4 linked regions of the Homo sapiens genome follow. The protein of the gene in region 1 purifies or fractionates together with the protein of each later gene. This does not show direct contact. Each region holds a gene or a part of one and is shown on either strand. Other genes may lie near its edges.

Region 1 (3,500 bases):
CAGGTTCAAGCGATTCTTCTGCCTCAGCCTCCCAAGCAGCTGGGACTACAGGTGTGCGCCACCACGCCCTGCTAATTTTTGTATTTTTAGTAGAAACGGGGTTTCACCATATTGGCCAGGCTGGTCTCAAACTCCTGACCTCATGATCCACCCGCCTCAGCCTCCCAAAGTGCTGGGATTACAGAAGTGAGCCACCACAACCAGTCGTGAATACTTTAAGTGATATAAAATACAACGTACCAAGAACTCATCATTTACGTATTCTTACTCTGCCTGTTCCAAGAAATATTTTAAGGAGATTAAAAAATAATTGATTTCATATTATGTACTTATTATAAAGTAAAGTGAAACAAAGGGAATATGAAAGTAGAAAAAAATATTTAGTACTCAAGATGTGCCAAGAACTGTTACGGGTACTTACATCTATTATTCTTATGTGATCTTTATAACCTTATGAGGATACTATTAATTCCATTTCACAGACAAGGAAACTGAGGCTCACACAGATAAACCAACTTGCTCAATTTCAACACACCTAGTAAATGTGGAGCCAAGATCTGAACCCAGGCTGTCTGACTCCAGAGCCTGCATTCCAAAACTATACTGCCTTAAGATAAAAAGAAGTCAGAGTAAAGGCATACATACTTGGGAAAGATACGTCACAAATTTGGCATGGAGCTCTTGGGAAGACAATGCAAATAACAAAACACAACAGGCTTTCCTATTTACAGTATCCAAAAAAAATTTTTTTTTGAGATGGGGTTTCCCCCCATCATCCAGGCTAGAGTAGAGTGGCACAATCATAGCTCACTGCAGCCTCCAATGGGGGTCAAGCAATCCTCCCACCTCAGCCTCCTGAGGAGCTGGACTACAGGCAGGCATCACCATGCCTAGCTAATTTTTAAAAAAAATTTTTGTGGAGATGGGGTCCCGCTATATTGTCCACGCTGCACAAATTTTTTTAAAAAGCAAAAAAAGTTCCTCAGAAGAAATACAACTTTTCCTGGGACAAACATCGAATTTATCCCATGGGTCTTCTTCATAAGATGTATGCGGGAAAGTCCTCAAAAACACCCTCCCATATACAGCAATGAGTTTTACAGGGTCATTGCTTATTGTCACTCTCAAACTAAAAAGGAAAATGCCAACATAAAATTAGTAAATCCATTTGCACAGAAGGGGACCAAAAAATGTGGTCCAGGTACACCAGTGTTATGTGGTCAAGAATCATATCATAAATTTTAGATAACTAGAAAAATGGATAGATGGACTACACAAACATACTCTCTCAACTTGGTTTGTGATAAATGATACATAGCAGTTAAGTTCAGTGTTAGACTCCCAACCTAGCGCTAAATTAGACTACAGGTCATTCTTCAATGCAAATTAAGTGTGGAGCTTAACCATTTAACAGTCAGGAATCAAGACTAAACATTCTCTAGACAGCCTGACTAAATAGCCTGACAAAAGCTATGTAGCTGAATGCAAGACCACCAGCCTCATGTATTATGAGGTCACAGGCAGAACCTATAGGTAAGGCTGAGACTCCTCAAAATCACCATGAGTCTGTTGCTGTAGAGTGTCAAAAAGGGATATTAGTTTGTAATCCCAGCACTTTGGGAGGCCAGGGCAGGAGGATCACTTATGTCCAGGAGTTCAAGGCCAGCCTGGGCAACATGGCAAAACCCATCTCCACAAAAAATACAAAAATTAGCTGGGAGTGGTGGCAGGCACCTGTAGTCCCAGCTACTCAGGAGGCTGAGGTGGGAGGATCACCTGAGCCCAGGAAGTCTAGGCTATGCTGAGTGGTGACCGTGCCTGGGTGCTACAGTGAGAACCTGTCTCAAAAAAAAAAAAAAAGAAAAGAAAAGAAAAAGAATTTGGTTGCACAGTTGGCCATATTTTTGTAATATGCATGTAAAATCATTTTAAAATCTGTCTTGGGAGCCTCATCATAAATTTTTAAAAATCCATACATACATATAAAATGCAATTGATATATGGTCCATTAAATACCAAGAATCAGCTTGACAGAATTTACCCCCAGATTAAACTGAGCTACCCAATAGGTATGGAATCCTCTAACAAGGTTCATCACAATGGTGTATTAGGAAGAGCACCAGAAAGACCAAGAAACTTGAGTCCCTGCCCCACCCAGAGTGATGCTGTATAAGGTCACTTTAATTATCTGTGCCTCAGTTTCCGGAGCCATAAAAATGAAAGTATAGCATTAGATGAACTCTGAATAGCTTTATAGCTCTTCCAGAGCTAATATTTATGATTCTGCAAGTTAAAATCTACGGAGTATCTACTTCATATATAGATGGCATCATAAGTGAAAGACATGATTATACATACATAGTTCATGTCCTCAAAAGTTTGATAATTGGAAGATAAAACATTCAAACAGCATTTCAACTAAGACAAAATTTGGGCTAAGCTCCATTATTGGAAAAATACTGTCCTCCTTCCCCTCCCATCCCCTAGTCCCCCAAATACAGTCAGAAGCTTTCTAATATAGATTCCAATATACATGTAAAATCCTCCTAAAATCTGTCTTGGGAATCTCCCTAATTATAAATTTTTTTAAATCCATCCATATATATATAGGAATTATCTAATATAGGGAAGAAAAATTATCATTTGCAATTCTAGTGTTTTCTTCTAGTAAATCTTTTTACTTTCCTCTCATAATATTTAGAAATGAGAAATACCTGTAGTTGGTGATAGAGTACTGAAAAGAAACAGAACTAAAAAACACATCAACAAGTCAAGAAGCATATATTAATTTTATCTACCCATTAGTATTCAAAGATTACTTGGCAGAGAAAATGAGTTTACATCTAATTTGATTAAAGACTATGATGCTATAATAAAATCTGTAAACATTTGAGTTATTTAATTTGGCATTTTAAACAAATGAAAGGTGATGTTAATGGGCCAGTCAATACACTTTTATTAACTTGATGCTATGGAAATTATTGTACCAAATTTTGCAAATTTAGAATTATCACTGTTAACTGTAATAATAGGTACAAACAAGAAAAACACTAGAAGTGTTGCAGAATTAGGAAAGTTTAAATAAAAGGTATTTTTAGAATGCCACAATAAGTTTTTCTTATGTGAAAATCACTTTCAAAAGTGTAGCAGGGGTTGTTTGAAAGATTAAATGAATACAGGTAAAGCACATAGAACAGTGCCTGGCACATGGCAACTGCTTACCAGGCATTGGTTAGCATTAACTCTAAACTGAATCTAATCCTATCCCATGTAAAAGATCAGGACAAAGTATTTGTTGTCGGAAGATTCAGGACTATCTTTCCAAAAGAAGGTATGCTGTGTGACCAGGATTTAAAATACTGATGCACATGCTGAAACCTGGAGTAACACAAATCTTCTAACAAAAATTAATTGTATTATTAATGCATATTAACTTAAAAATAAAAATGCCAGTCAGATCACAAGACTGATTTGCTCAAAATGAAAATGGTTTTTCAGTT
Region 2 (3,500 bases), on another chromosome or scaffold:
GACTCACATGGGAAGAGGACCCCACTTTGTTCTGTTTGATTCTAAGAGGACACAGACTGCTTCATTCATTTCAGTTTCCCCAGCACCTGGCTTAACTCTCAGACATGTTAGACGGTTTGTAAGCACCGGCTCTACTGAACTGGCATCAAATCATGACCTGGTTCAGAAGAGACACGAGGACTGGATCTGTTCTAAACAGATTGTGCAAAGGGGAAAGACACAGACTCAGCATTTCCACAGCTTTTAACATTTCAGCGAGAGGTGAGAAAGCATGTCAGGAACACAGGCCCGGCCGATGAAAGTGTCTGATGCTAACACATGAACTGTCTTCTGCTGGGCACACTAAGGGGCCACAAGCAAGCTACGCCCCAGAGCCACTCCACATTCTCTCTGGGTGCACTGGCCCTCGGCCACGCAAGGCCGCGCCAGCCTCCGAGGTGAGCCAGAAGGACACACACCTGTGGACTCGATGTCCCTGACTTGGGCTCGATGGCCAGCCCCAGGGTGACTCCGCCCGCCAGCGCTTTCTTCAGGCTCTCCTTGACCTCCGTCAGCTCCAGCTCCAGGCTGACACGCTCCGCCTCCTTCTGCCGGCACTCCTCCTCCAGCTGCTTCAGCTTCTCCTCCAGGATCGCCTGCGGCTTCCTGCCTGGAATTCCCAGAAACGCCGTTACTCCCGCGGCAGGCACAGGTTCTCCAAACAACAGAGAAGGCACCTGGTCCCCAAGAAGAACTTCCACAAAACGTCTGAGGTCGAGCTCCCCTGACTTAGGTCCTCGTTGTGAAACTTAAATTCAGCAGTTCTCTAAGGGATCAGAGTCCTTCTCCTACCATTTCCCTTTGCTGCAGCCGTTGAGGACTCGGACCAGGAAAGAGGAGATGCTGATTCTGACGAAGGCCAGGAGCTCCTGGCTCTGGGCCTCAATGTTCTCATTTTAAAACGTGGACCCTAAACTCCACAGTTCCCAAAGCTGCCACCTTCTTGGAGTGTGAACCCTGTCCTCCCCTAACGCTCCGCCGATCCTTCAGTCATCTTATTTGCGCCCGAGGCAATGAACAGTAGCTCAGCTTGCATCTCTACTGGACATGGCACACATTTCTTTAAGGCACATTCACTTATTTTATTTGAGGTTTGCTGCAGTGACCTAAGATGCACCCACTGGGCAGATGAGAACACCAATCCCAAGAGGTGAACGGACTTGTGCCCAGGGCCTGGGCCGGTGGTGGCCGGCAGGCGAGGTTCTCTTTTTCAAAGCCAAAAGCACTCCTGGCCCTCCTGCATCTTCACTATCCTGCAAGCTGGGAACACGGGAGAAATGCTACTTCTGTCTCATTAAACTCCATGCCCCGTCCCATTCTCTGGCACAGCCTCCTCCCGTAGGGTCAGCCTCAGACTGCAGGCCACATCCTGGGCCTCCTATAGGGTCAGCCCGACCTGCCCTGCCAACACCTGCCTTCCCTCCTCTAAACTCCAAAAGCATTTCCCTTCATCAGATCATTGAGGCACAAAGTCCAGCAAGGCTGGAGCTGCTAACCACCTGCTGGGTGTGCGTCAGCTCCTCCCCGCGCGGCGAGCCATGGGAAGGCCACAGCCTCTTCTCTGGACCACCCAGGGCTCTGAGGCATCTGAAGCCCCCGTCCCAGCCCAGGCCAGTACAATCTCAATCTAAGGAGCCAGTCTTCCGTAGTCTAAGCACCGGGCTGGAAGGGAGGCCATGCGTAGGTAAGCGGTGCCACCCCAGGCTCAGGAGCTGAGCGCCAGCTCCCGCCAGCAGGAATTGCACGCGCCTGGCCCAGGGCTGCCACTCTGGCTGCAAACTCAGTTTCTGTGACTTCAGTCCCTCTCTGGTGTCTGTATTCCATTAGCCTGGCCTCTTCCCTGATGCATCCCAAGACAGATGCTGCCTTGCTCTCGCCTGTCCCTTCTCAACAAACGAGGGGCTGCTTCTACCCTTGTCTGGACTTCTGAATATTACTGACCCCTGTGGGCTACCCTCTGTAGAGAAATCCAGCTGATCCCTCCTACCCGGTGACCAGAATCTACTGCGTCCTGCGGATACAGGGGCCATCCTCCAGACAATCTCTGTTGTCAGCGCCAGAAGCCGGAACAGGTCCCCCAGCACCTCCCCTGCCTCGGTGAGCAGCGTGTGGGTCTGGCCCTGGCCTCTGCCTGCACGCCGCATGTTTGACCACACAGGCACCTGCCTCGGGGTTACCAGCAATGTTTCCAAGCCCCAAGAAACACTGTGAGATAACCCACTCTTACTAAATAAAATGACAGCCTTGGTGAGCAATAGGTCCTTTGGGCAAAGCAGAATGAAATCTCCAGTCTCTAATACAAACATGCACCCTGGGCAGTCACCCACACCCTTCATACCGGCGTTCACTTCAATAGCCGCTCGAAGGTCTTTTCTTTCCTTGCGGAGCTGGGCCAGCCTATTCCGCAGGGCCTCTTTCCTCTTCAGCAGCTCCTCCTCTTTGGTCTGTAGCCGCTTGGCATCTGCTTCTACCCGGTTCTTGCCATACTTGTACTGGGCAGCATCTTGAGAAGAAAAAAAAGCAGCAATTAAAAATTAGGTTTACTAGCCTGGGAAATATGGGACGATCCCTTCTCCACAAAAAATACAAAATTAGCCAGGCATGGCGGCACATGCCTATAGTCCCAGCTACTCAGGAAGCTGAGGTGGGAGAATCGCTTGAGCTTGGGAGCTTGAGGCTGCAGTGAGCTGTGATCCTGCCACTGTGCTCCAGCCTGGATGACAGTGAGACCCCGTGTCAAAAAAAAATTAGGTTTATTCAAGCAGATAATGGGGTAACTCAAAAAGCCTGTTGAATCAGCCAACTCAGTAAACAAACACAAAGCATTATTTTGCTAATTCAACAAGAAAAGGACAGGGCTGGTATGAACCAAGCAGAAAAGTGACTAGTTCAAATTCTCCAATATTCTTTGAATCAAATTCTTAAAAACGAAAACAGAATATTAGGAAATTCCTTTAATTCACTTCCCTTTGAGGCACACGGCTTATAATTAATCTGCAACAAGGTGGAGAATGAACATTCTATAATCGGAAAAGACAGGAGTAATATCAAAAATAATGTCTGAAATTTGCTTCCTTCTCTACGTCTTCAAATCCTTCCCTAACACCGCAGTATCTGTTCCTTATGGCCATGTCATCTGACTGGCTCTGAATTGCTGCTACACCCCCAGCACTGAGATTAGCACCCGGCACGGAGTGTGGCACAATAAATGCTTGTTTAGTGAATAAATGAACAACGGATACATGAAGAGGCAACCAGGAGCGGTATCTGGAGCCTGACTGTCTAGGAAGGAGTCCCAGCTTACACTTGTAGCTGCATGACCTGGAACAGGGCACGAATCCCTCTGTGCCTCAGTTTCCCTCATCCGTGAAATGGGGATAGTAAGAGCAGGCAATTCACTGAGTGGTTACGAGGATTAAATATTTATAAAGCACTTAGAACAAACACAAATGGGCAACACA
Region 3 (3,500 bases), on another chromosome or scaffold:
CCCCGGGAGGTTCCCCAATCCCTCTCCCTCTTTGTTCACTGGCCGGGCCTCCGTGTGGAAAGGGCTATTTTTAGCCCTCGCTTTTTTTGGTTAATGGGCTTTTCGCGGCTTCTCTCTTTGAAGGGGCTATTTCAGGAGCAGACATCAGTGTCTGCATTTGGACTCCTTGGCTCGAGGTGCAGGAAAAGGTGATGGGGATGAGCTACTCGAGGGGCATCTGTGTCCCTGGACTGTGCCGGGCCCCTCCCTTGCCCCTGCTGGGTTCTGGGGCCAGGGAGGGACACATGACACCACCCTGCCAGAGCCTGTGGGAGGCGTCGGCAGAGGTGAACCACAGACTTGGATTTGGGGTCCTGGGGTTTGCGCGAGCAGGAATGTCCTCGCTTCTGGGACCTGGAACTGGAGTAGGAATGTCCATGTTTTGACCTCAGGGAGCCACTGAAATGGGCACTTGTGACAGGTTGGAATTGAACAGTGGCTGATTAGTTTCCTCCATTTTGTAGCAAGAGCCATCAGCGTCCACTGTCCCACCCACTCATCTGGGCTTGGGTGATTCGGGCATTTGGGGTGAGCTCTTTTCTCTTAGTTCTTAACTCATTCGTCAGAAGGACCCAGGGGTCAGCCAGGCCCAGCCATCTCCCTGGCCCACTGCACTTCAAGGAAGCTCAGGCTGGCTTGGAGGAGCCAGTGCGAAGTCAGCGGCAAGGCGAGGCTGTGCTGGCCAAGGAAGCGGAGTTCGGCAGCGAGAGAACTCGATGTGCTGGTCAGAGGTCTAGGATTCGAGCTGTGGTTATGTCATGGTCAAGGTTGTGTGGCCTCATCTGGAAGGAGTAGTGGTGCATACACCCCTGTCCACCCCCCGCCCAACAGGGGGTCTAGAAGTGCTTTGCCTCAGGCCCTCCCACCACTGCCTTCACTGCAGCCGGCTCCTTCCTGCAGCTCTCTCGGGAACTGCCCTGTGAGGCCCTTTGACACAGGGAATGTGGACCCTATGGACTGACATGGACAAGGGACCGTGGGCCATGTTGACACAGATAGGAGGTGGACCCCATCGGCTAACCCCGACGGGAACAGGCCCTCAGTGCATGACGGCTCCCTCATGGTGGGTAACAGCAGAAGGGGGGATGCAAATGGGCCTGCGGAGTTAGGGATCTGACCTCTGGGATGACTCTGGGCTGGAGCACCCCCAGGCTTGCTGAGCAGCTGCCCAAGGCCCAGGAGCCAGCGCAGCTGAGACGAGAGCTCTGGACAGGAAACTGGAGACCAGATTCGTGCAGGTGATGTGGCTTTGAGTTACCCGCTGCTCCAGGCCTGGTGTTCTCCTGTGAAGAATTTGCCCGCAGGCTCTCCATGGCCCCTCGGGGGGTAAAGCGTCTCTGGAGGGCCCTGGAGCCCCATCTGGAAAGTTGGTTTTCACTCTCAGCAGCTGAGTGGATCGGGCCTTCTGGGGAAACTGCTTTCCCCAACTTCACATACCTAGAAGTGCTAGAAAACTTAGAACACAGACCATTTAAGCAAAGAAGACCAGCCTTAGAACTAGTGAAAAAGGTACAAAAGGAACTAAAGAAGCAAGATGCAGAACTGCGCTTAAACACAAGGAAGGGTGACCTCTAGCACCATAGCCAGAGACGACCGTCCAGTCCTGTGTTCCCCGTTCCATCTCCTAGTGAGCCCTGGGCCCGCCTGGGTACTGCACGCCTTGTAGTTTGGCACTGCCTTGCCTGGCCAAGCCTTGCAGCACCCAGGTGCGGGGGGCAGGCAAAGGGCTCGCCAGCCCCATCGCTCATGAGCTGATCACAGACCTGAGCCCAAGTTCAGACTGAGCCAGCCTGGTGCTTCCATCCCTGTCCTCTTGGGCGGTGACCACAACCTACAGAGGACGAGCTCTTCAGTCATAGAACGGAATGCAAGCACCATGACAGCACTCCCTGAAATGAGGCAGGGAGGACAATCTGCTCATCCACTGGGATGGAAACGTGACTGTCGTCGCCCTCAGTAGCTCCCGAGGAGCACTGGGACTCCCCTTGTCAGAATGTGTGATTTCTCCGGCTTTCATCTAAGTTAAAACACGGGTCAATGAGGTGGGAGATCCTGGTTCAGGTGCAGGGCCAGGGCCTGCTGGGCCTGTGTCCAGCCTGACCCCAGCCGTGAGCAGGTCTTGGCAGCACCCTGAGGAGGGCTTACCTGAGGCAAGCAAGTTTGGGTTGTTGGCTGGAGGAAATGGTTTAATCTTTGAAGTGCAGGAAGCCCAGGGTTGCTTTTGTGCCACAGGTCTGGGGTCGCATCACTCTTGGGCCTAGAGAGATTTCTGGGGCGGGGAGTGGCCTCTCTACGAGAACTGCCTGCCCTGGGGACATTGCCAGACTGAACGGTGTCTGTATCTTCTGCTGACTCTGACGGACTTTGTGGGGACATCGATTTCCTTGAGTGTGGCCCTTGGGACCCCCAGGCACCTGATTCCTCTTTCTGGGCCTATGTTTCCTCATTGGTGAAATGGGCACAGCTCACCTTGGTGGGTTATTACATGAGTGTCAGAGGCAGCATTGATGACATGTGTTAGTGTGCCGCAGCTGCCATAACAAAGTTTGTTAAGCCACAGATTGGGTGCCTTAAACAATGGAAATTTATTCTCTGGAAGTCAGAAGTCTGTAGTCAAGGTGTGGGCAGGGACGCACTCCGAGTCCTTCCTTGTCTTTCCCAGATACTGACAGCCCTGGGGGTTACTTTTTGTGAGCAGAACTCCCATCTCTGCCTCCAGCTTCACCCCAACTCTGTATCTGTGTCCAGATTTCCCTCTTAAAAGGACACCAAGTCCTGCTGGATTTACAGCCTGCCCTAATGACCTCATTTTAACTGGACTGCATCTGCAAAGACCCTGTTTCTGAATAAGGTCTCATTGGGTCCCAGGGTTGGGACTTCAGCATGTCTTTTGGAGAGGCACAATTCAACTGAAAACATTACACAATCAAACACAGGCAGGTCCCCCACACAGGTAGCTCATGCTTTAAAATTAAGTCCGTGATTTACTTAGAGCGCGGGGCAGCTTATCCGCCTTGGGGTTGAATTGCTTTTCCTGAAGGTTAGTGTTCGTACCTGCTGAGCAGCGAGCCCTTCCTGTGCCAAGAGAGTTGTTAGCACTGGATGTGCATTTGCCGGGTTAGCGCCGCCTGCAGGTGGGCAGCAAGAGGGCAGGGCAGGTGTTGGCAGCTTTACAACTGCTTATTTAAGGATCAGTCTCTGATACAAACTCTTGTTGACTGCGGAAAGAATGCATTCATTTCCTTATTCGAGTAACAGAGTCGCCCCTGGAAGTCATGTCATTTCCTTTTAGTCGCTCAGGCTCTTGTTCTTGATGAAGGTCATAATCATTAACTTTGTTTAAAAGTTAATTATTGGCCAGGCGCAGTGACTTACTCCTGTAATCCCAGCACTTTGGGAGGCCAAAGCGGGGAAACATGAGGTCAGGATACTGAGACCATCCTGGCTAACAAAGGGAAACC
Region 4 (3,500 bases), on another chromosome or scaffold:
GTGTGTGTGTGTGTATATATATATATATATATATATACACCACATTTTCTTTACCCACTGCTTGGTTGATGGGCATTTAAGCTGCTTCCATATTTTTGCAATTGCAAATTGTGCTTCTATAAACATGCGTGTACCAGTATATTTTGCATATAATGACTTCTTTTCCCCTGGGTAGATACCCAGTAGTGGGACTGCTGGATCAAATGTTAGTTCTACTTTTAGTTCTTTAAGGAATCTATACTGTTTTCTGGTAGGTTATATCTTTAAATAAGGAAAAGTATTTACATTTATTCTGTAGGGTGTTGCTATCTGTTTTGAACTGAAGATATGTTAGTTTAGTAGAGTCCTCCATGGCTACCATTAATAGGTAACACGTGAATTTTTAAAGTGGGCATGAATTGCAGATGTCTTCTTTTTTCTAATATACAGCCTGAATCAATAGTCTCTGATCATTATAATATTCAACAAGATACAGAATTCCGCTTAATTTAATGTGATTATTCAAACACACTTAATGAGTTTGCTATTACGTATTTTCTCACTCGGGCCCTGGTTGAAATCAGGGAACTTGAGAATGCCTAATAGGTTCAACTTCTTCAAAGAGGGCTTTTGCAGCAGAAATAAGGTCACATGGTTCATTATGCTAATGGTTAGTATATGTCATTTATATTGTCATTTATGTGCCCCAAGGTCTAAAAAAGATGAGGATATTTGAGGAGGAAAATGGAGAAAATAATTTTAATTTAAAACCATGGACTGATTATAATGGTTACACTATATAAGATCTCACATGTGGTTTTGGTTTTAGTTTGTTTTGTTTAATTCAGTCTATTTAGAAAATTCTAAAGGGAATGGGTCCTGGCCTCCTTAACCCAAGTTTGAGAGGCTGTATTAGAAGGTTTCAGAAAGCAGTCTTGAAAATGTTGGCCGGTAGCACAATATTGTTTACCCTTTCCCTCAATAAGTAGCTTCTAATTGGGGAGTAGGTATAGCAAAGGGGAAATAGGTATAATTTCTAGGGTTCACTAATTGACTTTGACTCCCAATTTGACCTTTCACTAACTGTATTTCTTCAGTTAAATGGAAATAAAAATTATACCTTTCTCCAAAAAATGCTGCTAAACTTAAACTATGTAACAATACATGTAAAATGCAGTGTCTTACACATAGTAAGCACTCAATAAATTTTCACTGTTACCAGATTCTTAACACGGGAGGGCAACGTAGTCATTCACTGCCTTTTCCATTTTCAAGCTGAGAGAGAAATAATAGAAAGAGTTTTAAAAATGGCATTTTGATGCCTTTCCTGAATCTTGTTATTAATGAGTGGTCAACAGGAGCTTTAAAAATTACTGGTGATCTGTAGTTTTCTTGCTTTTAAAATCTTGCTTTTCCTTGTGCTTCTCTTCGGATATTTGGCTGTTATTCATTATTTCATGCTATTAATTGAAATCAAATTCTTTTTTTTTTTAGAAAATCATATTGAGGTCTGAGAATGTGTGATTTATCTCTGACATATTAGTTAGCCACAAGAAGAATAAGTCTTCTTGGGGCTAAACAACTCTAACTGGCATTTGATATCTACTGATAATTGTGGTCATGATTTATAAATAGGCAAAGAAATGTTCAATACAGTTTGTTGGTTTCTTAGCATAAGAGTACTTTAATCTGGCTAGCACTTTGGAATTTTGGTGCCTTTTAAAAATTATTAGAATTCAATTGATCCAAATGGCCCCTCTATAGACTTCCCCTTAAATTATAAATTTTTTGCATTTGTAGGGACATTTAATCCTTATATGTCTAATTTCATGGAGGCAATATCCTGAAGCAAAAGTAAAGGCCAAGAAAGTTTTAAAGCTAGTTTTTACTCTGCCATTTTCATTGTTAAATATGAAATGTGTTTTTTCCAAAATTAAGTGAATTTGAACGTTGAAAGGGCCAAGTTTGGTCTGAACTATGAAATTTGATGGAGTTTCTAAACATTGCAAGACAAATTCTTCCAACTCTGGTCACAGTTCTGGTATCACATGACTGGTTGTTTCCTGCAAATAGAAACCAACACCCTGGCTTGGACAGTGTCCAGCATCCTGCAGTAGTGAGGGAGGTGATGGACAACAGTTTAACTTTTGGAGATTTTCTTTCCTTTTTAAAATAAATGTCAAATTTAACTGCCCTTTTTCCACTGTAGAAAAGATGGACAAGAAACCCTTTATTCATGGAAATCTTGACAAAGAAGGTAGATTGTGTATACATTAGTTAGGGTAACGCTGGCTGCTATAACGATTAGTGCCCCCAAATTTTAAGTTTAGTGCAGTAACACTTACCATTATGCATATTTCTGTCTAGTTGGTAGAACCAGCCACCTGTCTTCTTTTCTCTTGTGACTCTCAATCCCTAGGGCTTGGTGCTCCCTGATCTACCAACAGACAGAGATAGAGAAGACAGGGAGTGCACCTCTGTTTGTTCATTGCCTTGGTTGGACACTTCTGTTTACATTTCATTGGCAGTTATTGGTCACATGGCCCGCCTAGGTGCAAAGAAGGGAGAGGGTGCAAATTTAATCCTTGAGTGGTGATCACTCCCCCCAACTATGGAAGGAGGAGCAGGAATTGTAAGGGACACTTAGATGTCTCTTCCATTGGGGTCACTGGCGTGAGTGTGGAATCTCAACACTGTAATGTACATTTTCTTCCTCTCAAAGTACCTTGGGAGCCTCCAATCCAGATCAGGAATTCTAGATGACTTGATGACATGGGAGAATACTACATGACATGGAAGGAATTCACTTATTATTTCAGTTTGATCCTTAAGTTTGAATTCCCCAAGAAGCAAGTCCAGAAACAACGATTTGACTGCAAGTCGTTTATTTGTAAGGTGATGCTAGGAAACACTGGTGGAGGTGTGGGAAGGTAAGACAGAAAAGGGAAGGCCACCAAATAAACGTTGCATGACCAAGCACATCACCACTGTGGGTATCTGGAGCTTCACTCCACTGGGAAACTCTGAGATCCAGTGTGGAATACACACCTCGGAGTTATCCCACTCAAAAAGTGAGGGGTGCTGAGGTATCTAAACACTCAGGCTATCAATTTTTGTTTGAAAACTGCTCCCAGGGGACATTAATACCGAAAGCACTTCTGGCATGTTGAGTAGACTCCAGTCCCCAGAGAAAGGCTTGCAAATGCTGTCAGCTGAAAGCCAGGCAGGCGTGTACTAAAATGGTAACGTACTGGGGATATGGGCAAGCTTGGCACTACTGGCATCTGCTGTAGTCCTGGGTAGCACAGGCTGTATGAATGCTGCTGACTGATGAATGAGCAAGCTGTCTTTGGTGTTGTTCTTTCTGTTGTACAGTGTGCCTGACGAGGAGGCCAAGACAACCACCACAAACACTCAAGTGGAAGGGGATGATGAGGCCGCATTCCTGGAGCGCCTGGCTCGGCGTGAGGAAAGACGCCAAAAACGCCTTCAGGAGGCTCTGGAGCGGCAGAAGGAGTTCG

Evidence for each region.
Region 2: the proteins of AKT3 (region 1) and AFAP1 purify together in Homo sapiens (affinity purification with mass spectrometry; one large-scale study listed by BioGRID and IntAct). This does not show direct contact.
Region 3: the proteins of AKT3 (region 1) and WDR1 purify together in Homo sapiens (affinity purification with mass spectrometry; one large-scale study listed by BioGRID and IntAct). This does not show direct contact.
Region 4: the proteins of AKT3 (region 1) and CALD1 purify together in Homo sapiens (affinity purification with mass spectrometry; one large-scale study listed by BioGRID and IntAct). This does not show direct contact.

The regions. Positions count from the first base shown.
Region 1 is NC_000001.11:243,843,744-243,847,243, forward strand, and holds part of AKT3 (RAC-gamma serine/threonine-protein kinase), read right to left. Parts: intron 1-3,500. UniProt on the Homo sapiens protein: AKT3 is one of 3 closely related serine/threonine-protein kinases (AKT1, AKT2 and AKT3) called the AKT kinase, and which regulate many processes including metabolism, proliferation, cell survival, growth and angiogenesis.
Region 2 is NC_000004.12:7,772,362-7,775,861, forward strand, and holds part of AFAP1 (actin filament-associated protein 1), read right to left. Parts: exon of another isoform or gene 2,543-3,500; coding exon 2,378-2,542; exon of another isoform or gene 650-2,377; coding exon 459-649; exon of another isoform or gene 1-458. UniProt on the Homo sapiens protein: Can cross-link actin filaments into both network and bundle structures. May modulate changes in actin filament integrity and induce lamellipodia formation.
Region 3 is NC_000004.12:10,089,300-10,092,799, reverse strand, and holds part of WDR1 (WD repeat-containing protein 1), read left to right. Parts: intron 1-3,500.
Region 4 is NC_000007.14:134,929,634-134,933,133, forward strand, and holds part of CALD1 (caldesmon), read left to right. Parts: intron 1-3,354; coding exon 3,355-3,500. UniProt on the Homo sapiens protein: Actin- and myosin-binding protein implicated in the regulation of actomyosin interactions in smooth muscle and nonmuscle cells (could act as a bridge between myosin and actin filaments).